2 separate regions of the Homo sapiens genome follow, and region 2 is linked to region 1. A link means that fine-mapping ties the variant in region 1 to the expression of a gene that starts in the linked region. Tissue or cell type: whole blood. Region 1 holds a variant in brackets; the other region holds the start of a gene. All regions are shown on one strand. Distances are between the middles of the regions.

Region 1 (10,197 bases):
TTTCACGGCCCAAACAGAAACCTGGCTTACTCAGCAGTCTGTGGTGCTTTGGGACTGCAAGACAGATGCAATGGGTTGTGCTTTCTGGGGCCAGCCCTTCCAAATCCCACCCGCAGGAGCCTTGGCGGCTCTCTTAGCTCCTCTGACCCTCGCTGCCACGCTGGGCCTCAAGGCAGCCCTGGTGAGCATGGCCGGGAGTGTGGTTGGGAGCAACCCAGCCTTGGCCAGCACACTCTGTGCCATGACTGGATCAAGTCTGGCAACTGAACCTCACTTTTTTCTTATTAAAATTTTTGAAAAATGGCTGGGTGCAGTAGCACACGCCTGTAATCCCAGCACTTTAGAAGGCCAAGGTAGGCAGATTGCTTGAGCCCAGGAGTTTGAGACCAGCCTGGGCAACATGGTGAAATCCTGCTTCTACAAAAAAAAAAAAATACATTTTTTTAAATAATTGGAATGTTTTCATGTAAATGTATATGAAATATACACATTTAGTTTAAGTAATAAATCCAGGGGACTCCAAGTAAAGAAAGAGAACTCTTCTAGGATCTCAGAAGTCCCCTGCTTACCCTCCCCCATCCAGAGAGAACCGTCATCCTGAACCTTTGGCTGAATCACTTCCTTTTCTTCCTGGTTTTACCGTCCGTCTCAGTTATCTCCTGCTGCACAGCACAGCACCCCAAAACCCAGTGGCATAAGTCATCGGTGAGTCAGTCTTTCTTAGTTGGATGGGTGGACAGGCAGTCGCTTGCTCCCCGAGGTGTTGGTTGAGGCCGTGCGTGCAGCAGCGCACAGCTGGGCTGGGAGGTCCAGGAAAGTGTGTCCCTCGCCACAGAGCATTGGTGCTGTCAGTGGCCTCTCTGCTCTTCTCCATGTGCCCTCTCCCCAGAGCCCCTCCATGTGTCTCCCACTCACACGGGAGCTTGGACTTTCCTCCAGCTCGGTGACTGGATTCCCAGGAGCCACAGCAGAATCTTCCAGGCTTCTTTAGGTTTAGGTCTGGAATTGGCACAGTCCCAGCATCCTGATGTCAGAGTCGTCTCTGGGCCATCCAGATTCCGACAGGAGGGAAACAGACACCGTCTCTCCATGGGAGGCGTGGTGGGCCCTGGCAGGGGAGGAATGGCTGGCCATCCTGAGAGGGGCTCTGCATCATCCGCGTCCGTTCCGCCGTGTCGGTTCTGCCGCGTCTGTTCCGCTGTGTCAGTGTGCCTGTCCGGACTCACACTGCAGGTGTCCTCAGTGCCTCACTTTTTTGTTCCCCAGTGAATTCCTCGTGAGGGAGCCCAGGGCTCTGTGTCCACCTAAGCTTTTGGTCATCAGGACAGCATCCCAGCTCTGACACCTGAGGTGAGGGAGAAAAACTGAGTGACTAGAGGTGTTGGGAAAAGGTGCCCGATTGCAGCTAAGACTTTGTGAGTGGGGGTCAGGTCAGTCTGCATCTAAAATGAGGACTCTGGGCTGCTGGGCTCTGTGGTCTCGTTCTGTTGGCATTTTCTATGGTTCTAAGGTTTTAGGATCTTCCTTAGAAGTTGCTTTAACTAGTGCACATATTTATCGCCCATCACGCAAGGTGAAGACAAGACCACAGACCTTGACACTTGTGCTTGAGCGATGGGCACCGTATTCCAAGGGTGGGGTGGGGCAGGCTGCCTGGTGGGAACAGTATTTCTTCACCCTGTGTTCCCGCACATCTGGGGGCGATGGGGAGCAGCTGGCTGTTGATCTGATTACTGTGGTTAACGTCTCCCCAGACAGCACCTCCTAGCACGTACTTAGGAGGGGATATGTTCCTAGGACCTGCACACCCCTTCGCTCCCAAACCCTTTTCCTATGTCCCTCCAAGCCTGGCCGTCCTGCTGGGTTCCTGTCGCTGAGGAATAGATAAGAGGGGAACTAGGATACAGGCTGGTGATCCCTCCAGAGCAGTTCACGTGGGTTGGAGGTGGGGGACTGCCTAGTTCTAGCTCAGCCCCTCAGAGGGAAGGACCCAGCCGGCCATGCCTCCGTCTCGCCACGGGCCTTGAGAGAGGGGCTGTTAAAGCTTCCCGGCTGGGGAACAGCCTGGGGGACCCTGAGCTCCACTTGCCCTGTGAGGGTGGGGCTTCGGTTGTAAAGTCCACAGTGACACAGTTCTGCGGGTAACACCATTTAGCACTTAGTCCGCCCCCTCCTGGCCCCCTCGAGCTGCTCTTGCACCCCTGGGAGGCCAGTCCCAGATTGTACTGGTAAGCGCATTTCAGCTGCTGCTGATCTCTCTGTGGGTACAGGGCCCCTCCCTCCCTCCCTCTCTCCCTTCCTTCCTTCCTTCTTCTCTCTCCTTTCCTTCCCTTACTTTGCCCATCTTCACTTCTTCCTCCCCCCTTCTTATCATTTCTCCTGTTTTCTTCCCTTTTGGTGCGTTTCTCTGCTGGGGCAGCCTCAGAGGATTATAGACGCCTCTGTTTCTCCTCCTAACACCCGTGTGTGGGAGGAGCCCACTTCTGGGCGGGCATCTTGCATTGGAAAAGTGCAGTCAGCACGGTGGAAAATGTTGCTCATGGGCACACAGCTGCTCTCTTGGCGGGTGGTGGTATGTGGGGGGCTGGGCCACCACCCACCCTGTCCTTGGGGCCTTTACTATTTTATTATCTAGCGAATGTGTCTTATCTAATCTATCTAGCTTACCCATCCATCCATCCATCCAGTCCCAGGACAGCTGTATGGCTGGGCGGGGCTGCGCTTGCCAGGAAGCCCCAGGGCACATGGCCACAGGGAGGCTCATCCCAGCCTTGGGCCCACACAAGGGGATTGATCCTGTCCCTCCCCTTGGCTAGGAGTCTCCTCACATGTCTCTTCCCGGCAAGTCAGATGGTTTTCCTGCTAGAGGGTTCTTTGTACCTCTGGGGGTTCAGCTGATGCTCCCCAGGTTGTTTTAGCACCTGGGTGGCTCAAGTTTCGGGTTGGCTCCTGGGGAAGGTGAGGAAGCCAGGCACACAGCCTGGAGAGAAGGGTTGGGCCTCACTTGCAAGTTCCAGATGGGCTGCTTCTGAAGCCAGTTGAGGATTTTGCCCTGTGTGGGCCCTGGTATTCCCCTCTTCTGCACTTGGGGCTCCTGGGTATGTAGGGGGTGACTAGCAATTGAGGCCCAGGGCTTGCCACCCACACACCTGTGTGCTCACGTGACCTTTTCCACAGCCAGGAGAAGACAGCTCTAGGGTTGCCGTGGCCTGGGCCCACCTCGCCCCTGCCTTTGGTTCCTTCTGCACCCACCTTGCCCTTTGTGCCCTTCAGGTCTTGATCCACAAGCTGGACATTGGTGCCTCCCCATGTCCAGTGCATAGGAGCAGCGCAGCCACGATTCTCCCTTGCGTTCCTTCAGGTCACAGATAGGAACCTGCTGCTTCCAGGGACTGAGGACAGGAGAGAAAGGCCTCTGTGCTTTGCTCCAGGTGGCCGTGTGCTGCTGCCAGCCACTTGGTGCACTTGGTGCGGGGCCAGCTGCCCCAGGGCCTTACCTCCTGATTTCGGGGCTGGCCCTGGCTCTCCAGTGCTTACACTTAGGGCTCTAGCCACAGCCATTTAGGAATGTCATTGAGAGAGCCAAAGCCTGCGCGGGGATGTGTAGGGGGAGGGAACAGCTGTTTCTGGGCCTCTGGCAGCAGCAGCAACGCTGAACTTGTGGCTCGGAGGCTGGTGCGCTGTGGCTCATGCCTGTTGCCACTGCCATGCTCCCCGTTATTTGTTGCGTCACTTCCCCCCGCTCAGCAGATACCCCCACTTGTGAAAAGTTTCCAGACATCACGTGGTGGGAGGCCTTGGCGCCCTTCAAGGCCGACCTGTGCTGGTGTGAGGGGCGTGGCTTCCTCCGGACTCATCACAGCCCGACAGCCATGCATGGCCACAGCAGCTTCAGAGCTGCGGCAGTGATTCACCCCCCAAGATGCTGATGTCACAGGGGAGTGCCTGAGCCGGGGCAGAGCTGCCGAAACTGGGGGCGGAGAGCCCCAAAGTGTCCCTCTCACCTGCCCAGAAGCCGGGGAGCCAGCCCCGTGCAGACTCAGGCCTCAGAGAAGAGGAGGAGTAGGCAGAGAACTCACTACCCCTTAGCAGATCCTGGGCCAGGGCGTGACAGCCGTGCCCAGTTGAATCTGTCTAATGTGGCCCCAGACAGTGGGTGTTGATTTTTCTCTTCAAACATTCTGAAATGGGTTCTTTCTAGAAAAGAGGGCCCGCTTATTTTCCCTAGACAATTGCTGATGTTGACGCCCACTCTGGGTGGTGTTGGGGCGGGAGGGAGAGCTGTTTTAGATAGTTACTTAGTCACGGCTTGTGCGGTTCAAGACTGCTCGGCACTGGGCCATGGAATTTTCCTGAGCATTTTCACTTGTGGGATTTCCAGGCATTAAGTGAGGCCCTTGACAGAGAAGTTGTGGCCAGGTCAGCAGCTCTTGGGGTCAGGATCAAAGTTGTTTCTCCTGGGATGGCCACCAGGACACAGGTTTCTGGAGTCAGAAGACTCCGCAACTCTAGGTAGTTCCCATGAATCAGAAAGAGAGGGAGAGCTAGGCTTTGTCGGGGGATGGGGTACGTGCAGAGCCTGAGAGGGGCCGAGTTCTGCAAC[A/G]CTGGCTGATGAAACACCGTCTTGTCTTCACCTGTCCATGAGAGAATGAGAAAATAGGAAAGTTTTCTTAAAGACCAACATGTCCAATTGAAACATCTGTCCTTTATTCTGAGATTGTCATGCATTCTTTTTGTAACAAATGTTAAAGTGACCATGTCGTTTCATTTTTGAAATGATGACACATTTCAGTGTTCTGTATTTGTTCCCTTTTTTGGCTTTTTCATGTTATTATCAGGCTGAATACGGAGGCGGCTGCCTCGTGTTGGTGCCCCAGTGCTTTTTGGTTTGGGCCACTTTTCCTGGACAGTAAACCCAGGAATACAGGAGCCACCAGTTGGTTGAGTTTGGCTTGCAGGGGGTATCTGGACTGAACTGCCCTTTTGTGGCAGAAATGCCCTCACTTGTTTTAATTCTGTCTTCTCCATGGTGCTCGCCTGGGACTTTAGGAGTGACTGTTGAGCGTGTCTGACGTCCTTTCTCCGTGCTAACCCCAACGCCCTTTGGCTTTCTTCAGCCATGGACTTTCCCCAGCACAGCCAGCATGTCTTGGAACAGCTGAACCAGCAGCGGCAGCTGGGGCTTCTCTGTGACTGCACCTTTGTGGTGGACGGTGTTCACTTTAAGGCTCATAAAGCAGTGCTGGCGGCCTGCAGCGAGTACTTCAAGATGCTCTTCGTGGACCAGAAGGACGTGGTGCACCTGGACATCAGTAACGCGGCAGGTACCCCGTCAGGGCTGGGGCTGAGCTTGCTGATAGCCAGAAGCTATGGCCGGCCCTGTGCCATGCTAGGCCCTCCAGGGGCAGCACCTGCAGGCTGTGGGATGCAACAGGCCTCCCGCACAGGCTTCAGGCCATGAGCAATTCAGTACTAAGTTCCTCCCACCTTTTGGGGGCCTGTTTTGATTGGTAGTGGAGTGGTAAGGGGAGAACGGGCAGGAAGGGCTCATGATGAGCTCTAGGCCGCAGTGAACACAGGAAAGGCCTCATTGGGAGGGGCAGAGAGTAGGCAGGCTCTATGCCCTCTGGCCCCTTTCCGTGGCAGAGTCAGTCCTGAAGCATCTACCCCAGTGCTAACTAGAAGCGTGGGGAGAGGTGATGGGGAAGGCCTAGGGGCTGGGAGCAGTGTCAGGAAGACCTTGGGGTTGTGGAAGGAACTGGTCCTGGATTCAGACTCCCAACCCAGACTGACGTGACATGCCATGAGAAGGTATTATTCTCCCATTTTATAGATGTGGAAACTGAGACCCAAAGAGGTCAGTGACTGGCCTGGAGGTCAGTCAGATAGAGAGTTGGTAGCAGAGCCCTGATGAAAGTCAGGTTGGAGTGTCCTCCACTGGTGAAGTGTAGCGGCCAAATAAGAGGGTGTGGAGGGCAGGTGTTCACAACATCCGTCCTCAATGCAGGGTGGGCATTCACACCTCTGTCCTCATCCAGGGCAGGCATTCACACTCTGTCCTCCCTGCAGGATGGGCATTTATACCCCCGTCCTCTGTGCAGGGTGCATATTCACACCTCCTTTTCTCCATGCATGGGCGGCATTCACAGCCCATCCTCCTCCATGCAGGGCGGACAGTTGCACCTTCTGTTCCCTGTGCAGTGTGGGCATTCACACCTCCTGTCCTCTGTGCAGGGTGGGCGTTCACACCTTTTGTTCTCTGTGCAGGGCAGGCATTCAGACCCTCAGCGAGCACTTCTTTTCAAGGGCTGTTGGTAGTGCTGAGATCCCCCAGGTTACCTGCCTCCTCTCCACAGAGGAGATGGGGCGATGCAGGCTTGCCACTCAGCTGTTCCTAAATCCCTGCGTCCTGCTGCTGAGTGGAGTGGTGGGGCAGGCTGCCGGTGCCGGATCTTGAGGTGGGTCTGTGACAGCTGTCCTGTCCTTGGTAGGCCTGGGGCAGGTGCTGGAGTTTATGTACACGGCCAAGCTGAGCCTGAGCCCTGAGAACGTGGATGATGTGCTGGCCGTGGCCACTTTCCTCCAAATGCAGGACATCATCACGGCCTGCCATGCCCTCAAGTCACTTGCTGAGCCGGCTACCAGCCCTGGGGGAAATGCGGAGGCCTTGGCCACAGAAGGTAGGTTATTGGCAGCTGCTCCCAAGCAGATGGCCAGAGACCTTGGCTTTTGATGTGGGCTCTGCCTCTGACTTTCTGGGTCTCAGTTTCCTCATCTGGCCCTGCCTCGGTTGTGGGTGCTGGCAAGGGTTAGCCTCAGGTCTGAGGGTGGCCTCTCTGCCTGCCTTTCCCCTACAGAGCACCCGGGAGCCGTGCCTGGTTCAGTGCCTTTGCACACGGGCAGGCTCCTAAACCCTCCTGCGGGTCTGTTCTCCTGAGCCCCTCCTTCCACTTCCCTTAGCTGCTAAGATAAAAGCCCTCAGATGCCCACTATGGGCCAGGTGCCTTGCTGTAGACTTCCAGAGGCTGCGTTCCTCCCTTTCCTAGTGCTGACCTCTGATCAGCTCCCTTAGTGCACACATGGGGTCTGCATGTCCCACACAAGCAGGAACCATCACTGTTGTATTCCCAGTGCCCAGCCATCAGCCTGGCATGGAGTGGGTGCCCTGTGAATAATTTGGTGAATGAACAAATCAGCAAACCACTACTTAGAGGTACCCTAGGGAGGACGAGGAAGACCTAGCAAGTTCTGGGCCACCTCACACCTCCAGATGGCGGGCACTTGATGGGAAACGGCAGGTCTGCCCTGTTCCATCTCCAGGAGGGGACAAGAGAGCCAAAGAGGAGAAGGTGGCCACCAGCACGCTGAGCAGGCTGGAGCAGGCAGGACGCAGCACACCCATAGGCCCCAGCAGGGACCTCAAGGAGGAGCGCGGCGGTCAGGCCCAGAGTGCGGCCAGCGGTGAGTCAGATGCCAAGGACCCAGCCGGCTGTCCTGTCACCTCCCAGCAGCCTGGGCACAGGGTAGTGAGGGCTGCCTTGGGGCAGGTAGCACGGGCACCTGCACCTCTTGAGCCTGTGTTACCCAGAATGACCTATTGTGTGTTCCAGGGGGTCTGTTTCAACCAGAGCAGACACAACAGCCTTGGCTAGGGGTGTGCTGGGGCCTCCCCTCCTGGGTCACACGCAGCCACCACCAGCGCGCTGGTCCAGGAGAGGTATCCGACCCCTGGGCAGAGGGTAGCAATCCAGCCTCCGGTGCTTCCCCCACCCAGGTGCAGAGCAGACAGAGAAAGCCGATGCGCCCCGGGAGCCGCCGCCTGTGGAGCTCAAGCCAGACCCCACGAGTGGCATGGCTGCTGCAGAAGCTGAGGCCGCTTTGTCCGAGAGCTCGGAGCAAGGTAGCCCCGCCCAGCCAGGACCAGGCCCTACCTGGTGCATCCTCCCAGGGCCCTGCCTCCACTGCGCACTGGGGCCTCCCTCTCCTCCTGCCTCCAGCTAGTCCCACCTGGAGTCACCATGCACTTCAGCTTTGGGACACCTTGGTCTTCGCATGTTCTTGAGTCTCGAGGTCGTTCCTTGGTTGACCATGCTAGCCGTGTGTCTGTGAGCACAGGCACGTCCTTCAAAGCCCTGGAGCTTCTGCTGCTTCCCGGCTTTCAGCACCGTGCAGGGGTGCCTTGCCACCCACGGCAACCCTCCAGTGCCTGCTGGCCGACAGCGCCCACCCCAGCTGGCTAAGCCCCCTACCTGCATCCCGCAAGCAGCAAATACCCAGTTCACAGGCCCCCCCGGGGGCTTTCCTTGGCCAGTGCTGGGGCCATTTACTGTCCCTTCCACATGTTGCCGGCGCCCCTCACGTGCGCTCAGGCAGAGAGGGCTGCCGCCTCCATGCTTGCCCTTTTCTCCGCAGAAATGGAGGTGGAGCCCGCCCGGAAAGGGGAAGAGGAGCAAAAGGAGCAAGAGGAGCAAGAGGAGGAGGGCGCAGGGCCAGCTGAGGTCAAGGAGGAGGGTTCCCAGCTGGAGAACGGAGAGGCCCCCGAGGAGAACGAGAATGAGGAGTCAGCGGGCACAGACTCGGGGCAGGAGCTCGGCTCCGAGGCCCGGGGCCTGCGCTCAGGCACCTACGGCGACCGCACGGAGTCCAAGGCCTACGGCTCCGTCATCCACAAGTGCGAGGTGAGGGAGACTATGGCCAGCCCTCCCAGCCAGCGTCCCTCCCCTCCGGCCTCCCACCGGCTGCTCCTCACACCCCGCTTCCCCGCTGCACCCACAGGACTGTGGGAAGGAGTTCACGCACACGGGGAACTTCAAGCGGCACATCCGCATCCACACGGGGGAGAAGCCCTTCTCGTGCCGGGAGTGCAGCAAGGCCTTTTCCGACCCGGCCGCGTGCAAGGCCCATGAGAAGACGCACAGGTACTGCCCCAAGCCGGCCTCCTACCCCGGCCCCTGCCAGGCCCGGCCTTTCACGCCCCAGCGAGCCCTGCCTCCTGTCGCCTTCTGGCCCTGCAGCCCTCTGAAGCCCTACGGCTGCGAGGAGTGCGGGAAGAGCTACCGCCTCATCAGCCTGCTGAACCTGCACAAGAAGCGGCACTCGGGCGAGGCGCGCTACCGCTGCGAGGACTGCGGCAAGCTCTTCACCACCTCGGGCAACCTCAAGCGCCACCAGCTGGTGCACAGCGGCGAGAAGCCCTACCAGTGCGACTACTGCGGCCGCTCCTTCTCCGACCCCACTTCCAAGATGCGCCACCTGGAGACCCACGACACGGACAAGGAGCACAAGTGCCCACACTGCGACAAGAAGTTCAACCAGGTGTGCGGACCCCTCCCGGAACCAGCGCCTGGCAGCCGCCGGTGGCCGCAGCCGCATGCATGCCACGTGGTGGGGCGGGCGGGGAGCACAGCCCCGGCCTCCAGGAGCTCATCAGCTTGTTCACCCAGGAAACAGGCGCAGCGAGAGCCACTTCCGCGGGGGAGCTCCCGGTTGCTCTGCGGAGGGCAGGCCGACTCAGGGCGGGGTTTGGTCCTGAAAAAATGGGGTGGGGCGGCTTACCTCTCACCGCTGGGACCTGGGACCTCTCCTGACCCAGGAGAGATAGAGCCCTTCACGGACCCTGGCAAGCCTGAGAGTCAATTGTTCCTTTGTGGGAGGGGCAGGTGAGGGGGCCCGGGGCCGAGCTCTGTGGGGTGGCCCCCCTGACCCCTCCCTGGGCACAGGTAGGGAACCTGAAGGCCCACCTGAAGATCCACATCGCTGACGGGCCCCTCAAGTGCCGAGAGTGTGGGAAGCAGTTCACCACCTCAGGTAGGGCCAGGGCTGCCCTGGCTGCCCTCACACCCCTGCTCCTCGGCCACCGGTGGTGCCCCACGCCAGGTTCGCCCTCGGTCTCGCCACAGGGAACCTGAAGCGGCACCTTCGGATCCACAGCGGGGAGAAGCCCTACGTGTGCATCCACTGCCAGCGACAGTTTGCAGACCCCGGCGCTCTGCAGCGGCACGTCCGCATTCACACAGGTGGGTGGTGAGCGGCCATGCCCAGGACTGGGAGGGCACGGAGAGGAGCAGGCACCAACACCTTCTGCCCGGTCCCCAGGTGAGAAGCCATGCCAGTGTGTGATGTGCGGTAAGGCCTTCACCCAGGCCAGCTCCCTCATCGCCCACGTGCGCCAGCACACCGGGGAGAAGCCCTACGTCT
Region 2 (9,642 bases), 26 kb before region 1:
TTTAAAAAAAATTTTTTTAAGAAATGGGGAAGTATGGAACCAAAAAGGGGCCTGCATATCCAAAGCAAAACTAAGCAAAAAGAACAAATCTGGGAGCATCACATTACCCAACTTCAAACTATACTACAAGGCTATAGTCCCCAAAACAGCACGGTACTGGAATAAAATAGGTACATAGACCAAACGAACAGAATAGAGAACCCAGAAATAAAGCCAAATACTTATATCCAATGGATCTTCAACAAAGCAAACAAAAATATAAAGGGGGGAGGGGCACCCTATTCAGTAAATGGTACTGGGATAATTGGCAAGCCACACGTAGAAGAATGAAACTGTATCCTCATCTCTCACCTTATACAAATATCAACTCAAGATAGATCAAAGACTGAAATCTAAGACCTGAAACCACAAAAATTCTAGAAGACAACATTGGAAAAACTCTTCTGGACATTGGCTTAGGCGAAGACTTTATGACTAAGAACCCAAAAGCAAATGCAACAAAAATGAATATAAATAAATGGGACCTAATTAAACTAAAAAGTTTCTGCACAGCAAAATAAATAATCAGCAGAGTAAACAGACAACCCACAGAGTGGGAGAAAATTTTCACAAACTATGCATCCAACAAAGAACTAATACCCAGAATCTACAAGGAACTCAAACAAATCAGCAAGAAAAAAGCAAATAATCCTATTAAAAAGTCACATGCTAAGGACATGAACAGACAATTCTTATTTTTTTTTTTTTGAGACAGAGTCTCACACTGTCGCCCAGGCTGGAGTGCAGTGGCACAATCTTAGCTCACTGCAGCCTCAGGATCAAGCAATTCTCCCTGCCTCAGCCTCTTGAGTAGCTTGGTACTACAGGTGCCCACCACGATGCTGGCTATTTTTTTTATTTTTATTTTTTTGATTTTTTAGTAGAGACGAGGTTTCGCCATGTTGACCAGGCTGGTCTCGAACTCCTGACCTCAGGCTATCTGCCCACTTCGGCCTCCCAAAGTGCTGGGATTACAGGCGTGAGCCACCGCGCCCGGCCCGACAGTTCTTAAAAGAAGATACACAAATGGCCAACAAACGTGAAAAAATGCTCAATATCACTAATCATCAGGCAAATGCAAATCAAAACCATAATGCCATACCTACTCCTGCATGAATGGCCACAATCAAAAATGAAAAAATGATAGATGTTGACATGGTTGTGGTGAAAAGGGAACACTTTTGCACTGCTGGTGGGAATGTAAACTAGCACAACCACTATGGAAAACAATATGGATGTTCCTTAAAGAACTAAAAGTAAATCTGCCATTAGATCCAGCAATCCCACTAGCGGGTATCTACAGAGAGGAAAATAAGTCATTATATGAAAAATACACTTCCACACGCATGTTTGTAGCAGCACAGTTCACAATTGCAAACATATAGAACCATCTCAAATGCCCATCAATGCACGAGTGGATAAAGAAAATGTGGTATATATATATAACATGGAATACTACTCAGCCATAAAAAGGAATGAAATAATGGCATTTGCAGCAACATGGATGGAGCTAGAGACCATTATTCTAAATGAAGTAACTCAGGAATGGAAAACCAAATATCATATGCTCTCACTTTTAGGTGGGAGCTAAGCTATGAGGACGCAAAGGCATAAGAATGACACAATGGACTTTGGGAACTCAGGGGGAAAGGTGGGAGGGGTGAGGGATAAAAGACTACACTTTGGGTTGGCTGGGCGCAGTGGCTCACGCCTGCAATCCCAGCACTTTGGGAGGCCGAGGCGGGCGGATCACGAGGTCAGGACATCCAGACCATCCTGGCTAACACGGTGAAACCCCGTCTCTACTAAAAATACAAAAAATTAGCCGGGCATGGTGGCGGGCGCCTGTAGTCCCAGCTACTCGGGAGGCTGAGTCAGGAGAATGGCGTGAACCTGGGAGGCGGAACTTGCAGTGAGCCCAGATGGCGCCACTGCACTCCAGCCTGGGCAACAGAGCAAGACTCCATCTCAAAAAAAAAAAAAAAAAAAAAAAAAGACTACACCTTGGGTAGAATGTACACTGTTCAGGTCATGGGTCCCCCAAAATCACAGAAATCATCACTAAAGAACTTATCCATGTAACCAAACACCATGTGTTCCCCAAAAACTACTGAAATAAAAATTAAAAATATAGTTAAAAAGAACGGGTGAAGTTAGCCAGTTGTGGGTGCACATGCCTGTAGTCTCAGCTACTGGGGAGGTTGAAATGGGATGCTTAAGCCTAGGGGTTTCAGTCCAGCCGGGCAACATAGCGAGACCCCATCTAAAAAAAAAAAAAAGAAAGAAAAGAAAGACGGCCGGGCACGGCGGCTCACGCCTGTAATCCCAGCACTTTGGGAGGCTGAGGCAGGTGGATCACGAGGTCAGAAGATCGAGACCATCCTGGCTAACATGGTGAAACCCCGTCTCTACTAAAAATACAAAAAATTAGCCAGGTGTTGTGGCGGGCGCCTGTAGTCCCAGCTACTCTGGAGGCTGAGACAGGAGAATGGCGTGAACCCGGGAGGCGGAGCTTGCAGTGAACCGAGACAGCGCCACTGCACTCCAGCCTGGAAGACAGAGTGAGACTCTGTCTCCAAAAAAAAAAAAAAAACCTAAAGACAAGAAGGGGTGAAGTCAACTGCTGGGCTTTTTTGTTTCTCTAGCCATTGTGAAGACAGGAGTGAGTTGCCAGATTGGCATATGTTGCATCCCACTGAAGGCTAGTGGACATGAATCTCTAGGGAACAGTCTCCCCACTGCATACTTTCTTCAGCTGTGCTTGGCTGTTTGGGAGCTAACAAAGAGAAAAGGTGCATTTGGATTCACACAGCGTTGGTATTCTTACCAAATCCATGTGACAAAAAGGCAAGGGGGCAAAAGAGCTTACAGTAGTGGCAAGAGTGTTGTTAAAATTATAGATTATGGAAAATATGCAGGCCTAGAAGTAAACAAAGGAGAAAGCCCTCAGACTGTGAGAAAGTGGAGAAGTCAGTGGCCTAGAGCTACCAAAAAGGTAGAAGAGGGGCCACGGAGGGGCCATGCAAGTCTGCAGACACTTTTGTTTTCAGACACCTTTATTCACGTCCAAGACAATCAGGGAAGGGGATAATGTTCGGTTTAGAAGGTAGAAAAACACAACTGGGATCTGCAGCTTTGAAGCCACAAGTAGATTCATATCTCCGGTCCACCACTTACAAGATATGTGACCATGGACATTGATTTACACTTTTTGAGTCTGTTTTCCCTTTTTTAAAATTAGGAGAATAATACTATCTTATAATTGGTGTGAGGATTTAAAGAGATAATGCATGTAAAGCGCTTAACACAGTGCCTGGCACACAGTAAGAGCTGAACACATGATGTTACTGTTATATTTGGAAGAGAAACCAAGGCAGGGGTACAATGAGGACAACTCTGAGCGCCGAAGTACTGTAAGGTGGAACTTTTGGATAGCTAGGCGCATGCGTCTGTCTATGGGCGCTCTCCTAGCGAGGACGCTGCGCATGCGCCGGAAGTTGCAGCCGGGAAGCCTGCGAGGTCGGTTCCGCCCGACTCTAACATGGCGGCGCCCTTTGTCTGCTCTGGAGTGCCGTCCCCGGCCTTCTCGCGGCCGTGATGCACCTCCCTCTGCGGTGGGGTCCGGGACATGGCAGGTGAGTGTCAACAATCGCCCGGGGCCGGGGAAGTCCCGGGAGCCGGGGCGGAGGCGGCGGAGGATGGGGCGCGGTGGGACGCCGGTGACGGTTGTGTGGGGGAGGGGAGGGAAGTGGAATGGGACGCCAACCGGGGCTGAGGGGACACCGCTGGGCGGGAGATTGTGGGGTGGCGGGGCGGGGGGCGTCGCCGGGCGTGCTGGCGGGGAGTGGGCGGCCAGGCGACCGCCCGGGCGAGGGGGCGCGTGTCACCTCCCGGGCTGGATGACACCCCAGCTGGTAGCATCTCCGCCCCCGCCGCACGGCTGTCACCGCCCCTTGACCCCGCGCGCTGTCGAGGGTGGGCGTTCTGCGGCCGCGAGGGAGCGCAGTGCCGGGGCAGCTCCTGTCGGCCGGCCGGGGCGGGAGGGAGCGGGGCTGCCCGGGCCTAGGAGGAGCTGACAGAGGAGGCCGACGCTGTCCCTGTATAAAAGCATTTCATTCATTCATTCGTACTGCGGACGGTGGTTCAGCACCTGATAGATGGTGAAGCTAGAGCGAGTGATGCGGGCGGACTCGATCCTCCAGGATCCTCGATCCTGGAGTTAGGAGTGTGAACCGTGGAGCCCAGCAGCGGGGTTTGAATCCCCATTCCCTGCTGTGACCTTAGGCACTTTTGGCTTTTTCTCTCTGCCTGGGTTTATTCATCCTTTAAGCAGAGATGATAATAAAATCAGCCTCCTAAGATTGTAATAAAGGGGAAATGAGGCTCCTAGAACACTTATGGGTACAAAGTAAATGCTGTGTGTTTGTTGCTGTTATTAATTGTATCACCATTGTCACCCAGAGCTCAGAGACCCATGTGGGAGACATACAGGTAAATCAGCAATTCTGATACTGCTGCGAGGGCAGAAAGCCCTCCTTCCTCTGAAGCACGGAGTAGAGACACATCACTCAGCCTAGGGGGAATCCCGGGAGGCTTCTGTCCCCCAGAAAGCTAAGATCTAAGGGAAGCTCAGCGGAGTGAGGCAGGAAAACGGGTATTCCCAGTTAAGGGTGTAGTTTGTGAGAAAACTCATCTTCGTAGAGAGAGGAGAGAGAGATCAGGCTAAATAAAGAAGCAGACTGGGCCGGGCTCGTTGTCTCACGCTTGTAATCTCAGCACTTTGGGAGGCCCAGGCGGGCAGATCACTTGAGGTCAGGAGTTCGAGACCAGCCTGGCCAATATGGTGAAACCCCCGTCTCTACTAAAAATACAAAAATTAGCCGGTCGTGCTTGCGCGCGCCTGTAGTCCCAGCTGCTCAGGAGGCTGAGGTATGAGAATCGCTCGAACGCAGGAGGCGGAGGTTGCAGTGAGCCGAAACGGCGCCACTGCACTCCAGCCTGGGCGACAGAGCGAGATTCCGTCTCAAAAAAGAAAAAAAAAAAAAGCAGCAGCAAGCTGTGGTCTGGTCTTAGGGGACGTTGTAAACCTAGTTAAGGACTTTAAACTTTAGGTTAATGGGAAGCCATTTAAGAATCAGATCTGTGGCCAGGTGCGGTGGCTTACTCTGTAATTCTAGCACTTTGGGAGGCCAACGTGGGATGATCATTTGAGCCCAGGAGTTTGAGACAAGCCTGGGCAACATGGCAAGACCCCATCTTTATTAAAAGAAAAAAAAAAAAAAAGGAAAAAAAAAATAGCCGGGCATGGTGGAGTACACCTCTGGTGGTCCCAGCTTCTTGGAAGGCTGAGGTGGGAGGATTCTTTTATTTCCAGCCTGAAATAAAAGAATCAGGTTTTTTTTGTTTTTGTTTTTGTTTTTTTTTTTTGAGACTACGTCTTGCTCTGTCACCCAGGCTGGAGTGCAGTGGCAGCATAATCATAGTTCACTGCAGCCTTGATCTGAACTCAAGTGATCCTTCTGCCTCAGCCTCCCAACTAGCTGGGACTACAGGCGTGCACCATAACACCTGGCTAATTTTTTAAATTTTTAGTAGAGATGGGGTCTCACTATGTTGCCCAGACTGGTCTCGAACTCTTGGCCTCAAATGATCCTCCCGCCTCAGCCTCCCAAAGTACTGGGATTATAGGCATGTGCAACCATGCCTGGCCACGAATCAGATTTGTGGATTAGGAAGATCACTCTGGCTAAGTGAAGAATGTATCAAAGGGAGTGGGCCTGTAGGCCAATTAAGAGCCTGCTAGAATAATCCAAGTGAGAAATAAAGGTGTGAGTTAAAGGCAGAGAGTGAGGAGAGATGGTTTTAGCGATAGAATTGACACAATTTGGTGATTAGTTTGATGAGAGTTAGGGGCAGGGAGGAGTCAGGATCACCCCAGTTTTTGACTGATGGGTGTTGGATGCTGCTCCATGTGATAGGGAGCAGTACGGGGAGCAGATCTGGGGGAGGGCAGATATGTTTAGTTTTGAACATGTTGGAGTTGGATGCCTGTAAAACATTCAAGTGCACCTGTTCAGCTAGTAGTTATCACCATCAAAGGTCACTGAAGTCATGGGAGGGGATGAGCTCACCTAGGGTAGGGTATGCAATGAGAAACAAAGTGTCCAGGATATCCCAGAGCAGTGCCAATGCTGCAGTAATGCTTGGATACAAACCTTGTCGTTTTTCCTTCTTAACATTGTGTCCTGTCTCTTATTGAGCTGGAGTTCTTGAGAGCAGGGCCTGAGGCTGAGTCTGTGCATCTTTGTGTCCCAGTGTCAGCATGCTATCTGGCACAGAGCAGGCCATTTATTCAGCACTTCCTTGGGCCAGGCTCTGTGCTAAGCACTCTGTATTTGTCTATGTTTGATGGATGCATGAAAAGGCAGCTCTGAGGGAGCAGGTACCCTTTAGGTTCTCATCAGATTTTCCACTTGTGTGTCATTGATTCAGGTAATGAGCCGGACGAGGGGAGCCAAGCTGGAGTTTACACAGGCAAACTGTCAGAAAAGAGTAGCCTGGGCTGTCTGGAAATCTGAGGTATGTCTGTAATACTCAAGGATGAAACAAATCAGATCAGTTTGTCCTTTTTCTCTAGGTTCAACATGATTCAAATGATTCTTTCCTGATAGCCTTTTCTTCAAAATTATATAGTAATGACAAAATCCCAGTTACAGTTTGGTTGGGAAATTGTTGATCTTACTATTATTGTTTTACCTGCAGAGAGAGGCCAGAGTGGATGATCACTGGGCAATGCTCACGCCTTTAGTTAGGTGAAATCTACAGTGGTGGAAACAGAAGTTTATTCCTTGCTCCTTAACATTCTGGAAGTACACAGTCCAGAGCTGGTAGCACAGCTTGCTGTGTTCTGTGAGATCATCTGGGAGCAGGATTCCTTTGATAATGTGGCTTTTCTTGCTCAAACTTAGGCTTCCATCTCATGGTCCAAGCTGGCTGCTGTAGCTCCTGCCATCATGTATGATCTCCCTAGGGCAAAAAGGGACACAGAGCAGCGAGCACACACTCATTCCTTTTAAAGTTCTAATGTTTAAGGTGGGATTTTTGTGCAACATGGTTCCCAAACATAAGCCAGTTCCTGCATCTGGTGCACAGCTAAAGAACAGATTGTGACTGTTTCAGTGCTGGAGAAAAAGCTGGCTGAGAGAACCTGCTCTGTCCTCAGTCTGTCTGGATTACTCTCTTGGGGGTGTGATCCCAGCCTGAGGGGAGGTCCACTGAGTCCCCAAGGCAGGCTGCTCTGGCTTTGGGTAGGTTTACAGGGCTTGGGCCCAGGGAGGCCAGGCTTGTTTATCCATTCATTGTTTCTGTGCCCAACATGTGTCAGGCATTGTGCTGGGTGCTAGGGATGCTGGCACAAGTAAGACTGAATCCCGGGAGCAGGTGCTCCCAGCCATGTGTATCCTCACAATGCAATGCAGGAAATACCTTGGAGGGCTGGTGGAGGGTGTGCGCACACAGGGAGGATGCACTGGCGCTGGAAGGCTTTCCTGAGGGGGTGAAGATGTTGCAAACCGCGCATTTTGGACTGATCACTGTAAAATTCCCCTTGGACAGGTAGAGGCAGCTAGGACTCTGGGGTCAGGTGTGAATCTGCCCTCCCGTTGAGTGGCTCTGTGTCCTGACAGTCAGTTCCTTCTGAAACTGTGTCCCAAAGAGTTAAAAAAAAAAAAAGTAATGACTATTAATTTTCCTAATCACAAGATTGTCTTCTGACACATCAGACAGCAAGCCTTTTACTCAGTTTCATTGCTGAGCCTCAGTTTCCTCATCTGTAAAATAGGGATGACAGAATTGTTTGGAGAATTACATGAGGACAGGCAGGTAATTCACAGAATTGTCTGGAGAATTACATGAGGTCAGGCAGGTAATTCACAGGGTTTGCTGCATAGTGCAGCACTCCCCAACCTTTTCGTTTTTTTTTTTCTGTCAGCAAAATATATATTTTATATATATAGTGTATATATATAGTGTGTGTGTATATATATATAGTGTGTGTGTATATATATAGTGTGTGTGTATATATATAGTGTGTGTGTATATATATAGTGTGTGTGTATATATATATAGTGTGTGTATATATATAGTGTGTGTGTATATATAGTGTGTGTGTATATATATAGTGTGTGTGTATATATATATAGTGTGTGTGTATATATATAGTGTGTATATATATATAGTGTGTGTATATATATATATTGTGTGTGTATGTACATATATATATATACATACACACATACAGAGAGAGAGAGAGATTTCCCCCACCCACCCACCTACCTACCCAAAACATGTGTCTTAGTGTTTGATTTTTTTTTTTCATACACACAGAATAGGGAATTTCAGAATTTTTACATACATTTTAGCAAACAAGTTTTGATCTATTGGCTTCTTGGTGCAGTAATGGTGCCAAAGGCTCATACTATTACAAGGAAGTTGTGAACACTGATTTCTCAGGAGGTGAGGCCAGCCCCACATGAACTTCTCTTGCATCCCTCTGGTCCACCATGATACATAACTACTTAGACTTTTTTTTTCCCTCTATTGAATCATTAGATATTAAAAATGGAACAACAGAGTCACAAAGGGCCACATGCTTTTCAGTAGAAAGCATTCTCCTTCTCTAGGTTGCTATCACAGTGCAGACCTGACTGCCTGAATATGCTCAGGAGATTTAGTCAGTATTGTCTGTATTTGGTTATGGAAAAGGCTCTCCTGGCTGGGCGCGGTGGCTTACGCCTGTAATCCCAGCACTTTGGGAGGCTGAGGTGGGTGGATCACGAGGTCAGGAGATCGAGACCATCCTGGCTAACATGGTGAAACTCCGTCTCTACTAAAAATACAAAAATTAGCTGGGCGCAGTGGCAGGCGCCTGTAATCCCAGCTACTCAGGAGTCTGAGGCAAGAGAATCACTTGAACCTGGGAAGCGGAGGTTGCAGTGAGCCGAGATCACGCCACTGCACTCCAGCCTGGGTGACAGAACGAGACTCCATCTCAAGAGAAAAAAAAAAAATTAGCTGGGTGTGGTGGTGGGTGCCTGTAGTCCCAGCTACTCGGGAGGCTGAGGCAGGAGAACCCGGGAGGCGGAGGTTGCAGTGAGCTGAGATCACGCCACTGCATTCTAGCTTAGGTGACAGAGTGAGACTCTGTCTCAAAAATAAAACAAAAAGGCTCTTCCTTTTTTTTTTTTTTCTTCTTTAAGTCCAAAGTGCATAGTGAGAGCAAATCAAAACTTTTTTTATTTTTCCTTCTCAGCATCAGTTTCATGTGAGCATCTTCCCATGAGGGCTGCTCAGATGTCTCGCCTTTGTCCTCCTCACCCTTCAAAAATAAGTGAGAGTCAAGCAATTTAGACATTTATCAGCTTGGCAAATAAACTTGGCAGCAAATAGAAGTCCTACTATTGTAAAGAAATTGATAAGACAAAAGGTACATATGATGACCCAACTACTGTGGTGTTGGGTAATTTATAAGGTTGACCTCTGACTTCATTGATGTAAAATCCTATTGGAAATATGACGGCAGCCATACAGAAAAGCATCATCCCA

The links. PIP is the estimated chance that this variant, and not a neighbour inherited with it, causes the effect.
Region 2: ZBTB17 starts here. The variant in region 1 is fine-mapped to the expression of ZBTB17 in whole blood (TOPMed, PIP above 0.99).

What each region holds. Positions count from the first base shown.
Region 1 is chr1:15,943,418-15,953,614 of GRCh38, reverse strand. It overlaps ZBTB17 (zinc finger and BTB domain containing 17), which reads left to right. Exons shown (of 16, transcript NM_003443.3): 3 at 5,118-5,324; 4 at 6,492-6,680; 5 at 7,321-7,461; 6 at 7,775-7,900; 7 at 8,413-8,678; 8 at 8,776-8,918; 9 at 9,015-9,315; 10 at 9,720-9,807; 11 at 9,900-10,016; 12 at 10,096-10,197. The coding sequence starts at 5,120. LOC124903855 (a long non-coding RNA gene) reads right to left here and starts at 3,684. Exons shown (of 3, transcript XR_007065486.1): 1 at 3,253-3,684; 2 at 570-1,345; 3 at 1-54. RefSeq lists enhancers at 20-1,219, 2,463-2,512, 2,932-3,719, 4,211-4,380, 4,981-5,090. The variant A/G (reference allele first, on the strand shown) is at 4,604.
Region 2 is chr1:15,970,015-15,979,656 of GRCh38, reverse strand. ZBTB17 (zinc finger and BTB domain containing 17) reads left to right here and starts at 3,556. Exons shown (of 16, transcript NM_003443.3): 1 at 3,556-3,674; 2 at 6,532-6,618. RefSeq lists enhancers at 3,192-3,691, 4,583-4,692 and silencers at 3,693-3,792, 3,833-4,162.